Linked DNA regions of Homo sapiens: region 1 is linked to region 2. The links come from fine-mapping of genetic effects on gene expression. A gene starts in region 2. The other region holds a variant in brackets. All regions are shown on one strand. Distances are between the middles of the regions.

Region 1 (5,364 bases), 41 kb after region 2:
GGAGAGATCGAGAAGTCAGCATGCATTTATCCTGCAGCGATGAGTCCTCCCACAGGCGATCCGTGTGGCTCTGGGGGTGCAGAGTCCTACCACAGGCGATCCCGGGGGCTCCGGGGGTGCAGAGTCCTCCCACGGGGGATCCTGGGGGCCCCGGGGGTGCAGAGTCCTCCCATGGGGGATCCCGGGGGCTCCAGAGGTGCAGAGTCCTCCCACGGGGGATCCAGGGGGCTCTGGGGGTGCAGAGTCCTCCCACGGGGGATCCAGGGGTCTCTGGGGGTGCATGGGAGTCCTCATAATCTCCCCATCCTGGGGGCCCAGGGCAGGCTGGACAGGAGTGGCCAGGAGGGAGCTGGGCCTCGCAGGTGTGATGTGGTGGAAATGTTCCCGGCTGATGGAGCAGCATGTTCAAAGGCCAGCACCCCTGGGGAGCTGCAGGTCTTTCCGTCCAACAGGAACCTGTGTTCAGCTCGAGGGGGACAGTGGGCACCAATGCGACTGGAGAGCTGGAGACAGATGGGGCTTGGAAGTCACGCCAAGGGATCTGGATCTCACCTTGTGGGCACTGGGGAGCCTTGGAGAGGGGGATTACAGGCAGGGCCAGAGGGCAGACTTGGCCTTTAGACGATCTCAGTGACCACCCAATTCAGGGGCTGGATTGAAGGGGTTAATTCCTGCAGCGGGGAGGCTGATGTTTAGAGCATGTCCCTCAGGGCTTGTAGATGAGCGGAAAGAGCCCAACTCCAATAAGATGAAGTAAATAGCAGGGAATTTAGCGGCTCACAGAACTGGGAAACGCAGGCCTTCAGGTTTGGCTGGTCAAGGGTACCACTGAGATCTCCTCTCTGGGTCCCTCTCTTTCTGGGGATGGATTTCCTCCTTGCTGCTGGGGACAGTGGCCACCAGATGTTCTAAACGCCCATCCTCCCAGCATTGTGACCCAAAGGGTGACAGCAATCATTCTGTCTGGGAGAGAATTTCCAGGAAAGACCGAGTCATGTGCCCGAGCTGCTCGGCATGGCCCGGGGGTCAGCTGGTCTCGTGCTGGGGAGGGGTCGGCTCCATGACTGGCAGCTCGGCTCTGGCCACAGTGCACCAGGGATGCTGGGGCAGGTGATGGGCTGGCGTGCTTTGTGCAGCCACTGGTCCAGGCAGTGCATCGGGGATAGGCTTGGGCCTGCATAGGGGGCAGTGGGGAGACAGCTTGGTGAAGAACTTCCAGAGACATCTAGAAGGTCAAATAGACAGGATTTGGTGATTGACCAGATGTAGAAAGAAGGTGGGATCAAGAAATGCTTTCCAGGGCCGGGCGCGGTGGCTCACGCCTGTAATCCCAGCACTTTGAGAGGCCGAGACGGGCGGATCACCTGAGGTCAGGAGTTCGAGACCAGCCTGACCAACATGGTGAAATCCTGTCTCTACTAAAAATACAAAACTTAGCCGGGTGTGGTGGCGTGCACCTGTAATCCCAGCTATTCTGGAGGTTGAGGCAGGAGAACTGCTTGAGGTTTCAGTGAGCTGAGATTGTGCCACTGCACTCCAGGCAGGGCAACACAGAGAGACTCCATCTCAAAACAAAAAAAATAAAAGGAAAGAAAGAAAGAAAAAAAAGAAATGATTTCCAGGGTTCTGCTTTGATCAGCTGGTTAGGCAGTTGGTGTCATTCGCTGTGGTAGGAGACTGAGTAAGGGGAGCGGTTCCTGCAGGGCGTCTGGAGGTGCTGGCCTCCAAAGAGAGACATTTAGGGACCATCCATGGGGGTGGTTATTCGAGGTAAGGTCACAGGTGAGCTCCCCTAGGGAGGGGGAGTGAGTGAGAGGGCAAGAGAGCCTCAAAGTGAACCTCTAGGAGCCCCACAGTTGCGGGCTGGCTCAATCGGGGCTGAGAGAGAAGTCAAGGAGGCAGGAGGAGAAGCGGGGGGCTGGGGAGCTCCGGGAAGAGAGCTTCAAGGGGGAGAAGGTGGGCACCTGTGTCTCAGGTGCCACAGCGCAGCAGGCTTGGCTGGACCTTGGCTGAGTCTGCAGCCTGGCACTGTCTGCCTTCCCCGGCTCCCAGCATGACTTGCAGCTCCTCTTCCCACCACGCCGGCCTGGCACTGGGTCTCCCTTGTGGACCCCACGCACTGGGCTGTCACTGGACTCAGGTTGCCCTGGCTGGTCGTACAGAGCTTGCTGTGCCCAGCCTGGACACCCCCGGAGGTGGCGAGCAG[C/T]GGGCATCAGACCTCTCCCGCACCCTTTCGTCTTCCCATGAGTCTGACCACACAGTGCGGGCTGCCCACTCGTGAGCCCCCGGGGGAAGGGCTAACGTTATCTGCATTTTGCACGTGGGGAAAATGAGGCTGAGAAAGGGGTCAGGAGCTGAGGATGGAAAGAGCTAAGATGGGTCTCCAGGAAAGCAGGTTCCCATGCACCGGTCAGCACCCCCCTCCTGCTTCCTGCACCATTCATGAGACCCCTCCATAGGGCTGAGGCCCACCCAGCGAGGGAAACGCCGATGATGAGGGAGGGAGGGACCTCTCAGCGCCCAAGAATGTGACCAGCCTCCCAGGGCGGGGTATCTGCATGGGGACAGGCCTGGGGCCCCCCTGCAGGCCAGACAGAAGGAGCCACTGAGGGCCCAGCTGGCAGACCGCAGCCTGGGGGGTGGGGGCAGCGGGGCGGCGGGGGCAATGGCTCTGAGGGTGGGCGAGGACCAAGTGCCGCCAAGGAGCGATAATGATGGCTTGAGTCAAAGCCGCCCCGCGTCTCGCCCGCGCTGGCATCTCCAGCAGCACCGTGCCAATTAAAGATGAGTTGAGCATATCATTAGTTTCCCAATCGTCAAGAATCTCATTAGGGGAGTCTTAGATCCACCTGAGCAGCTCTGCCGATTGTCCACACTGGAGCTGCCGAGCTGGGGGCAGGGGGAGTTGCTGCGTGTTGATGAGTCGTAGCGGGGTTTTGCCAGGCAGGGCGCTGGATTGAACCGGCCCAGCAGTGCCCAGGGCCTAGGTCTCCTGGCTGACTGGTCAGTGGTCCTCAGCCTGTGTCTCCCTCCTCCAGTGGGGTGATGGGCTAGACTGGTCAGAAATCTACTGGGCGTCAGTTCGGATGCCACATTTCGACCAGACTTGGCTCAGGGGCCATCTCGTCTACCCCATCATTTTATAATGGGAGAAACAGAGGCCCACAGAGGTGGGGGAGCCCCTGGGATACACAGGGGCTGGAAGAGACCCATAGAGCTTGGTCTAATCCAACCCTAAAGCAGATCAGACTCCCATCTCTGTTGTCTCAGCTGAGTGACCATTTCACTTGTGCCTTTTTTTTATTTTGAGACCGAGTCTTGCTCTATTGCCAGGCTGGAGAGCAGTGGTGTGATCTCGGCTCACTGCAACCTCCGCCTCCTGGGTTCAAGCGATTCTCCTGCCTCAGCCTCCCGAGTATCCCAAGTAGCTGGGATTATTGGCATCCGCCACCATGCCTGGCTAATTTTTGTATTTTTAGCAGAGGTGGGGTTTTGCCATGTTGGCCAGGCTGGTCTTGAACTCCTGACCTCAAGCGATCCGCCTACCTCGGCCTCCCAAAGTGCTGGGATTACAGGCGTGAGCCACAATGCCCAGCTGCACCTCGTTTATAACAAAGAGGCCCCACCCTTCCCTTGGCCTCTTGTTCCATCTGTGCCCATCAGGGTCCTTTACTAATGAGTCACAGAGACCTGGCTCAAATTTGCTGAGGCAAGAAAGGAATTTCCTAGAAGTCAGGACTCTGTGGTTTTGCAACAGAAGGAAGGCTCAGAGATCCCAGGACGTCTCCAGCCTCATCCCTGCTGCTCTCAGCACATCTACCTCTGGCCGGGCAGCCTCTTCCTCCTGGGGGGTGGGGATGGGGTTACTGGGGGACAGAGAGCTCCAGAGCCACATGCCATGCCATCTGCCACCGGGCGGGATCTGCGCGTCTTTCTTTAGCCTCAGCTGGGAAAACCCCACGGAAGGACTGTGCATGGCCTGGCTTGGTCAGTTGCTCACCCTGAGTCCATACGGCAGCTTCCATTAGAACTGCCTGGCTGGGGTTTATTCATTCATCTCACGTTCACTAAGACTGGGCTGTGTGTCAGACATTGTTCTGTATCTATCTGGGAGAGGCAGACCATAAACAAGGGAACCAGTAATAAAGATAATTCAGATAGTGATAGGTGCTCTAAAGATGACGAGCAGGCATGCCTGTAATCCCAGCACTTTGGGAGGCTGAGGCGGGTGGATCACGAGGTCAAGAGTTCAAGACCAGTCTGGCCAACATGGTGAAACCCCATCTCTACTAAGAATACAAAAATTAGCCGGGCATGGTGGCATGTGCCTGTAATCCCAGCTACTCAGGAGGATGAGGCAGGAGAATCTCTTGAATCCGGGAGGCGGAGGTTGCAGTGAGCCGAGATCGCGCACCTGCACTCCAGCCTGAGCAACAGAGCAAGACTCCGTCTCGAAAAAGAAAAAAGAAAAGATTATGAGCGGGGTGCTTGAGGGGTGATATTAGCTAGGACGGTCAGTGAGGCCACAGGTAGTTGTGGAGGAAGAACGCTCCGGGCAGAGGGAACAGAGAGTGCAAAGGCCCTGGAGCAGGAACAGGTTTAGTGTGTATCAGAAAGGGGGCCAATGTGGGCTGGGTGCGGCGGCTCACACCTGTAATCCCAGAACTTTGGGAGGCCAAGGCGGTGGATTGCCTGAGCTCAGGAGTTCAACACCAGCCTGGGCTACGTGGTGAAACCCCATCTCTACTAAAATACAACACATTAGCCGGGCTTGGTGACACATGCCTGTAGTCGCAGCTACTCGGGAGGCTAAGGCACGAGAATTGCTTGAATTTGGGAGGCGGATGTTGCAGTGAGCTGAGATCAGGCCACTGCACTCCAGCCTGGGCCACAGAGCAGCAAAACTCTGTCTCAAAAAAAAAAAAAAAAAAAAGAAAAAAGAAAAAGAAAAAGAAAAGAAAGAAAGGTTGGCCCATGTGGCTGTTGGTGCATGATACATTTGAAGCCTGACATTTGAAGTGTCACACACACTTTGTGTGTGTGTGACAGGGTCTTTCTTTGTTACCCAATGTGGAGTGCAGTGGCGTGCTTGTAGATCACTGCAGCCTCAACCTCCTGGGCTGAAGTGATCCTCCTGCCTCAGCCTCCTGAGTAGCTGGGACCACAGGTGCATACCACCACACCCTGCTATTTTTTTTTTTTTTTTTATAGAGATGGGGTCTCACAGTTGCCCGGGCTGGTCTTGAACTCCTGAGCTCAAGTGATCCTCCTTCCTTGGCCTCCCAAAGTGCTGGGATTATAGGTGTGAGCCACTGTGCTTGGCCATCCCTATAAACTTTATACAGTTAATCAGAGGCTGGGCAC
Region 2 (5,364 bases):
GAGGCCCACGCCTGCCAACACTGCTCCCCACAAGACTAAGTCCTGCAGCCTCAGCCCAGAAGGACCCGCGCCTACCCCCACACGGAGGTCATGTTCAGCCACACCCCAGTGAACCCTGGCGACCCACCCCACAGTGCCCTGCCCTCCCGTGCTCCTCTCTCCTGACCTCTGTGCACGCTGCTCCCTTGACAGAAGCGTCCCCCCTCCCTTGCTATGCAGGATTCAGAGGACAGCGTCTGTCCCCAGCTGCAGCACGGTAACGGGCACACACATTAAGATAGTAAGAGATGTCCGCTGACGGCCACCAGCTTCCCAGCAGGCTCAGAGAAGTTACTGGAGTTGGAGCTGGGTGACAGCGTGCACAGGCCCAAGCATGGGATCCACCCAGTTCCTGGGAACTACGTCCCTCTGCGTTTCTGCCCAACAAGCTTCCCTTCATGAAGCCCATGAAACTGAACTCATGCTGTGCGGCTGCAATGTCTCGCTACTGTTAAGGAGGACAGTGAAGTATTTTGGGATACACATTCGCTTTTAATAAAAAAGAAATTTCCTCCTACAATTGATCCTGCACACGGGGGGGCCATGAGCCACGCCTGCTGACTCATTCCTCCAATTCTCAAACACAAGCAACGATTCAGGTCCTGGTGAGAACCATTCACGACTCCTCCGGGACCTGTTCCACCCTCCCCGTCATGCACAGATGATCTTAGTAACCAGAGTAAGAGTCTGCCTGAGACACGAGTCTTTTTTCCTGGCTCCAAGGGCTAGTGCCAAAGTTCCTCCCTCCACCGGGGAGGGAGGTGAGACTTGAGTCCCTGAGTGGGTGTCTGGGTGTTCACGTGTCCTGCTGAGCAGCGCGGGGCGGCTGCCTCCAGGTCACCACACCTGGCACACCCGGATCACCTCCCTCAGCGCCTTCAGCCCCTCCATGCTTTTGTCCTTCACGGCCACGGCGAGGAGGACTGCTCTGTTTCCAGCTTCTTGAGACACAAACGCTACCAGGTTCTTTGCAAAGACATGGATGAGAGGCTGGTAAAGGAAGGAGAAGAAACCATTTTAACTGCAAGAAACCTGGTTTTTTCCTCAATGCTTTCATGAAGTATCCCTTAGGAACCCAGGCAGGCTTCCCACACCACCATTAACCGCCACATAAGTCCATGCAACTGTGACTCAGAGTTCTGGCAGCACTCAGAACACTCCAGTCACGGGCACACTGCTAAAGACCATCACTCCATTCATTTTCCCAGCGCCTTCCGCAGCCCCGCCTCTTCTGGCTCTCTCTCATCTAAAAGAACCCAGGAAAGAGAAGCCTGCAGAAGCGAGTGCTGTCGAATCTCACGTGTGATCTCCACAGAGCACAGCACAGCCAGCCGCCTGCTCACGTAATGTACCATGGCAGGGGAGGCGGCTCGAATGACAAAACTGCTGCTTCTGCTTGTCTGCTGGATAAAATGCCTGCGGGCTGGACAAAGCATCCACTGAGGGCAAGCAGGGCGCCTTGAGACCCACAAATGCCCGGAAAATGCTATCGCTGTAGGGGTATTTGTCCGCCAGATGCCCCATGTCCTTACTGACAAATCACAGCCACTGGAGAGGTTTATGCTCCTCCCTGGGGGTCCCTTCCTGACCACTTTATTATTATTATTATTATTATTATTATTAAAGACAGAGTCTTGCTCTCTCACCCAGGCTGGAGCGCAGTGGCACAATCATGGCTCACTGCAGCCTCAACCTCCAGGGCTCAAGCCATCCTCCCACCTCAGCCTCCCAAGTAGCTGGGAGCACAGGCACACACCACTAGGCCCAGCTAATTTTTTGTTTCCTTTTCTTTTCCTTTTTTTTTTAAGACCAAGTCTCTATCTGTTACCCAGGCTGGAGTGCTGTGGCACGATCTTAGCTCACTGCAACCTCCGCCTCTCGGGTTCAAGCGATTCTTCTGCCTCAGCCTCCTGAGTAGCTGAGATTACAGGCATGTGCCACCACACCCAGCTAATTTTTATATTTTTCGTAGAAATGGGGTTTCCCCATGTTGGCCAGGCTGGTCTGGAACTTCTGACCTTAAGTGATCTGCCCGCCTCAGCCTCCCAAAGTGCTGGGATTACAGGTGTGAGCCACTGCACCCAGCCTCTCTCTATATATATATTTTGTGTAGGCACTTGTTTTTTTGTAGTGACTTGTGTGTGTGTTGTTGTGTTGCCCAGGCTGGTTTCAAACTCCTGGCCTCAAGCGATCTGCCCGCCTAGGCCTCTGAAAGTGCTAGGGTTACAGGCGTGAGCCACAGTTCCCGGCCAATCCACTTTACCTCATCCTGCCCCAGAAGGACTTTTGTGGTGAGCACAGGCTTGCTGACGTCACTGGCCACGCTGCTGGGCTCCAGGGAGACCAGGGTGCCCATCTTCCCAAACTGGGTCACCACCACCAGGATGTGACTGCTGAAGGCCGTACACACCACCTGGGTGGGGACCCCGCACACCACCTCCGTCTTCTGCTTCGATATCACCAACGGCGTGTCTTCCATGGCGGGGCTCTGCAGTGGCAGCTTTAATTTAGGTTAAAAAGAAAGGGGAAAAAAAGGAGTCAATCAAACAGTACAGCCTTGGGGCTCCCAAAAAAGTAGCACGGGGCATTGAAACGGAAACGCAAGGAGGCCCATTCAAAAGAAGGGGCCAGGCGCGGTGGCTCATGCCTGTCATCCCGGCACTTTGGGAGGCCGAGACAGGACGATCGTTGAGGCCAGGAATTCGAGACCAGCCTGGCCAACATAGCGAGACCCCCATCTCTACCAAAAAAAAAAAAAAAAAAAACCAGCAGGGCGCGCCTGTGGTCCCAGTTACTCAGGAGGCTGAGGCGGGAAGATCGCTTCAGCCCGGGAGGTCGAGGCTGCGGTGAGCCGTGATCACACCATTGCATTACAACCCGGGCGGTAGAGCGAGACCCTGTCCGTAAAAAAATAAAACAGAAGCAGGAGCGGGGCCGCCCATAGAGACCGCGCCTGGGGCTTTCTGGGTTAGGGGATCGACTTGCACGTTCACACTGCCAGGCCGGGCAGTGGCTTCCCGCCCCTCGGCCTCGCCGCCGCCCCGGCCCTGCAGCCGCGGCCCGGGACCCCCACGACACGCGGTGCCGAGGCCGGCCGGGCTACTGGGGACGCAGCCGCCCGGGGAAGCCCGCGGGTACCCGCGCTCACCAAGCCGGCGCCGCGCCCGGAAGTGGCTCTGCGTGCGCCACGCGGGCCCGCCCCGTCCGCGGGTTCCGTCCACCTTCCGGAAGTCAGGGCCGCGGCGCTTCTGGTCCCGGAGACTTGGGGCTCCCGGGCTTCTGAGCGGCTCGGGTTCCGCGCTGCCGGCAGGGCTTGGGGGCGCCTTAGAGCCGAACCCCGTTTTTTCAGGAAAGGGCGCTGCGACCACCCCCGTCCCGGGCCTCAGCCCCTCTGCTGCAGACCCTCGGGATCGTCGCTGGTAGGAGCTCTGTCCCCCGTGTCTGTGTCCAGGACCCCCGAAGCGCCGCGCCTAGGAACCCCCTAGCGCTGGGAGCCCGGCCCTGCTCGACCACGGGCTTTGGGCTGGAGGCGTCATCGTCGCCACAGCGAACGCTTATTTGGCACCGAGTGTCCGCCAGGCATCGCTCTAAGCGCTTTATACCCATAACTCACTTCATCTCAGCCACCCGGTTCCGTAGAAGCGTTTCATCCGCGTTTTACAGACGTGTGCAGGTGCAGAGAGCTCGGCCAGGCTCAGGCGGCGGGCGGGCTGGGGTGGGCTCCGACCGTCCCTCGGGCGCTCCGTGACACGAAGCCCCGGCCAAGGCCAAGAAGGGGGCCAGCCCCACCCTGAAGCGGGATGAGTTCTGGTTCCTCCCAGGGACCCCCTCACTCCCTACTGCTCACTCTCAGTTTCTCCAAGCTGGAAGGTTTTTTGTTTTGTTTTGTTTGAGACGGAGTCTTGCTGTGTCACCCAGGCTGGAGTGCAGTGGCGCGATCTCGGCTCACTGCAGCCTCCGCCTCCCTGGTTCAAGCAATTCTCCTGCCTCAGCCTCCTGTGTAGCTGGGATTACAGGCGTGCGCCACCAGGCCCGGCTAACTTTTTAAATTTTTAGTAGAGATGGGGTTTCACCATGTCGGTCAGGCTGGTCTTGAACTCCTGACCTCAGGTGATCTGCCTTCCTCGGCCTCCCAAAGTGCTGGGATTACAGGCGTGAGCCACCGCGCCCCGCTGCTGGAAGTTTTATTGGTAGGGTCGGACATCTTGGTAGCAGAGGCTGAAAGTGATTGGAGCCTCCAGAGCCTTCCTCGGGGTGGGGCGTTTAACATCCCTTCAGAACCCCACCCTCGGAGGCCTTACTGTCGTTTCCTGACAACCATGTCAAGGCCGTATTTTCTGTCTATATTACCAGAAAGGGGTCCCGATCCAGACCCCAAGAGAGAATTGAGGGCGAGTCCACAAAGTGAAAGCAAGTTTATTAGAAAAGTAAAGGAATTGAGGCAGGAAAACAGGGTCTGGAGGCAGGGAACACTTCAGCTATGACAGGAAATACCCTCTCCATAGGGTGTACACTGAGTAAATGATTTTGTAACTTTATTTCATCCTCTTTATTTACATAGGGCGTACACCAAGTAACCAGTAGAAACCCCTAGAGGGTATTTAAACCTCACAAGTTCTGTAATGGGGCCCTGAGCCTCTATGCTTTGGCCGCCCCCACACCATGGAATGTACTTTCATTTTCAAAAAATTTCTGCTTTTGTTGCTTCATTCTTTTTTTGCTTTGTGCATTTTTTTTTTTTTGAGACAGAGTCTCTGTTGTCCATGCTGGAGTGCAGTGGCGTGATCCTCACTGCAACCTCTGCCTCCCGGGTTCAAGCAATTCTCCTGCCTCAGCCTCCTGAGTAGCTGAGATTACAGACGTGCGTCACCATGCCCGGCTAACTTTTGTGTTTTTAGTAGAGACGAGGTTTCGCCATGTTGGCCAGGCTGGTCTTGAACTCCTGACCTCAGGTGATCTGCCCGCCTCGGCCTCCCAAAGTGCTGGGATTATAGGTGTGAGCCACCGCGCCCGGTGGCTTTGTGCATTTTGTCCAATTCTTTGTTCAAGATGCCAAGAACCTGGACACCCTCCACCAGTAACAGAATAAAGAATGGCTACTCCATAGGCAGAGCAGCATGGGCTGCTGGTTGCCCATTTTTGTGGTTATTTCTTGATGATATGCTAAACAAGGGGTGGATTATTCGTGCCTTACCTTTTTAAACCCTTTAGGGTAACGTCCTGGCATTGCTATGGCATTTGTAAACTTACGGCGCTGGTGGGAGTGTAGCAGCTGGGACGACCAGAGGTCACACTCATCGCCATGTTGGTTTGGTGGGTTTTGGT

Evidence for each region.
Region 1: its variant is fine-mapped to the expression of PSMG3-AS1 in whole blood (INTERVAL, PIP 0.99).

The regions. Positions count from the first base shown.
Region 1 is chr7:1,608,127-1,613,490 of GRCh38, forward strand. No RefSeq gene overlaps it. Among named protein-coding and RNA genes, the nearest start is that of PSMG3-AS1, 41 kb to the left of the region's middle. RefSeq lists enhancers at 1-424, 425-957, 958-1,489. The variant C/T (reference allele first, on the strand shown) is at 2,207.
Region 2 is chr7:1,566,822-1,572,185 of GRCh38, forward strand. PSMG3-AS1 (PSMG3 antisense RNA 1) reads left to right here and starts at 3,252. Exons shown (of 5, transcript NR_027329.1): 1 at 3,252-3,458. It overlaps PSMG3 (proteasome assembly chaperone 3), which reads right to left and starts at 3,211. Exons shown (of 2, transcript NM_032302.4): 1 at 2,303-3,211; 2 at 511-1,029. The coding sequence starts at 2,518. The coding sequence ends at 877. RefSeq lists enhancers at 97-665, 492-786, 666-1,234, 2,941-3,509, 4,133-4,202 and 1 more and silencers at 2,883-3,312, 3,753-3,832.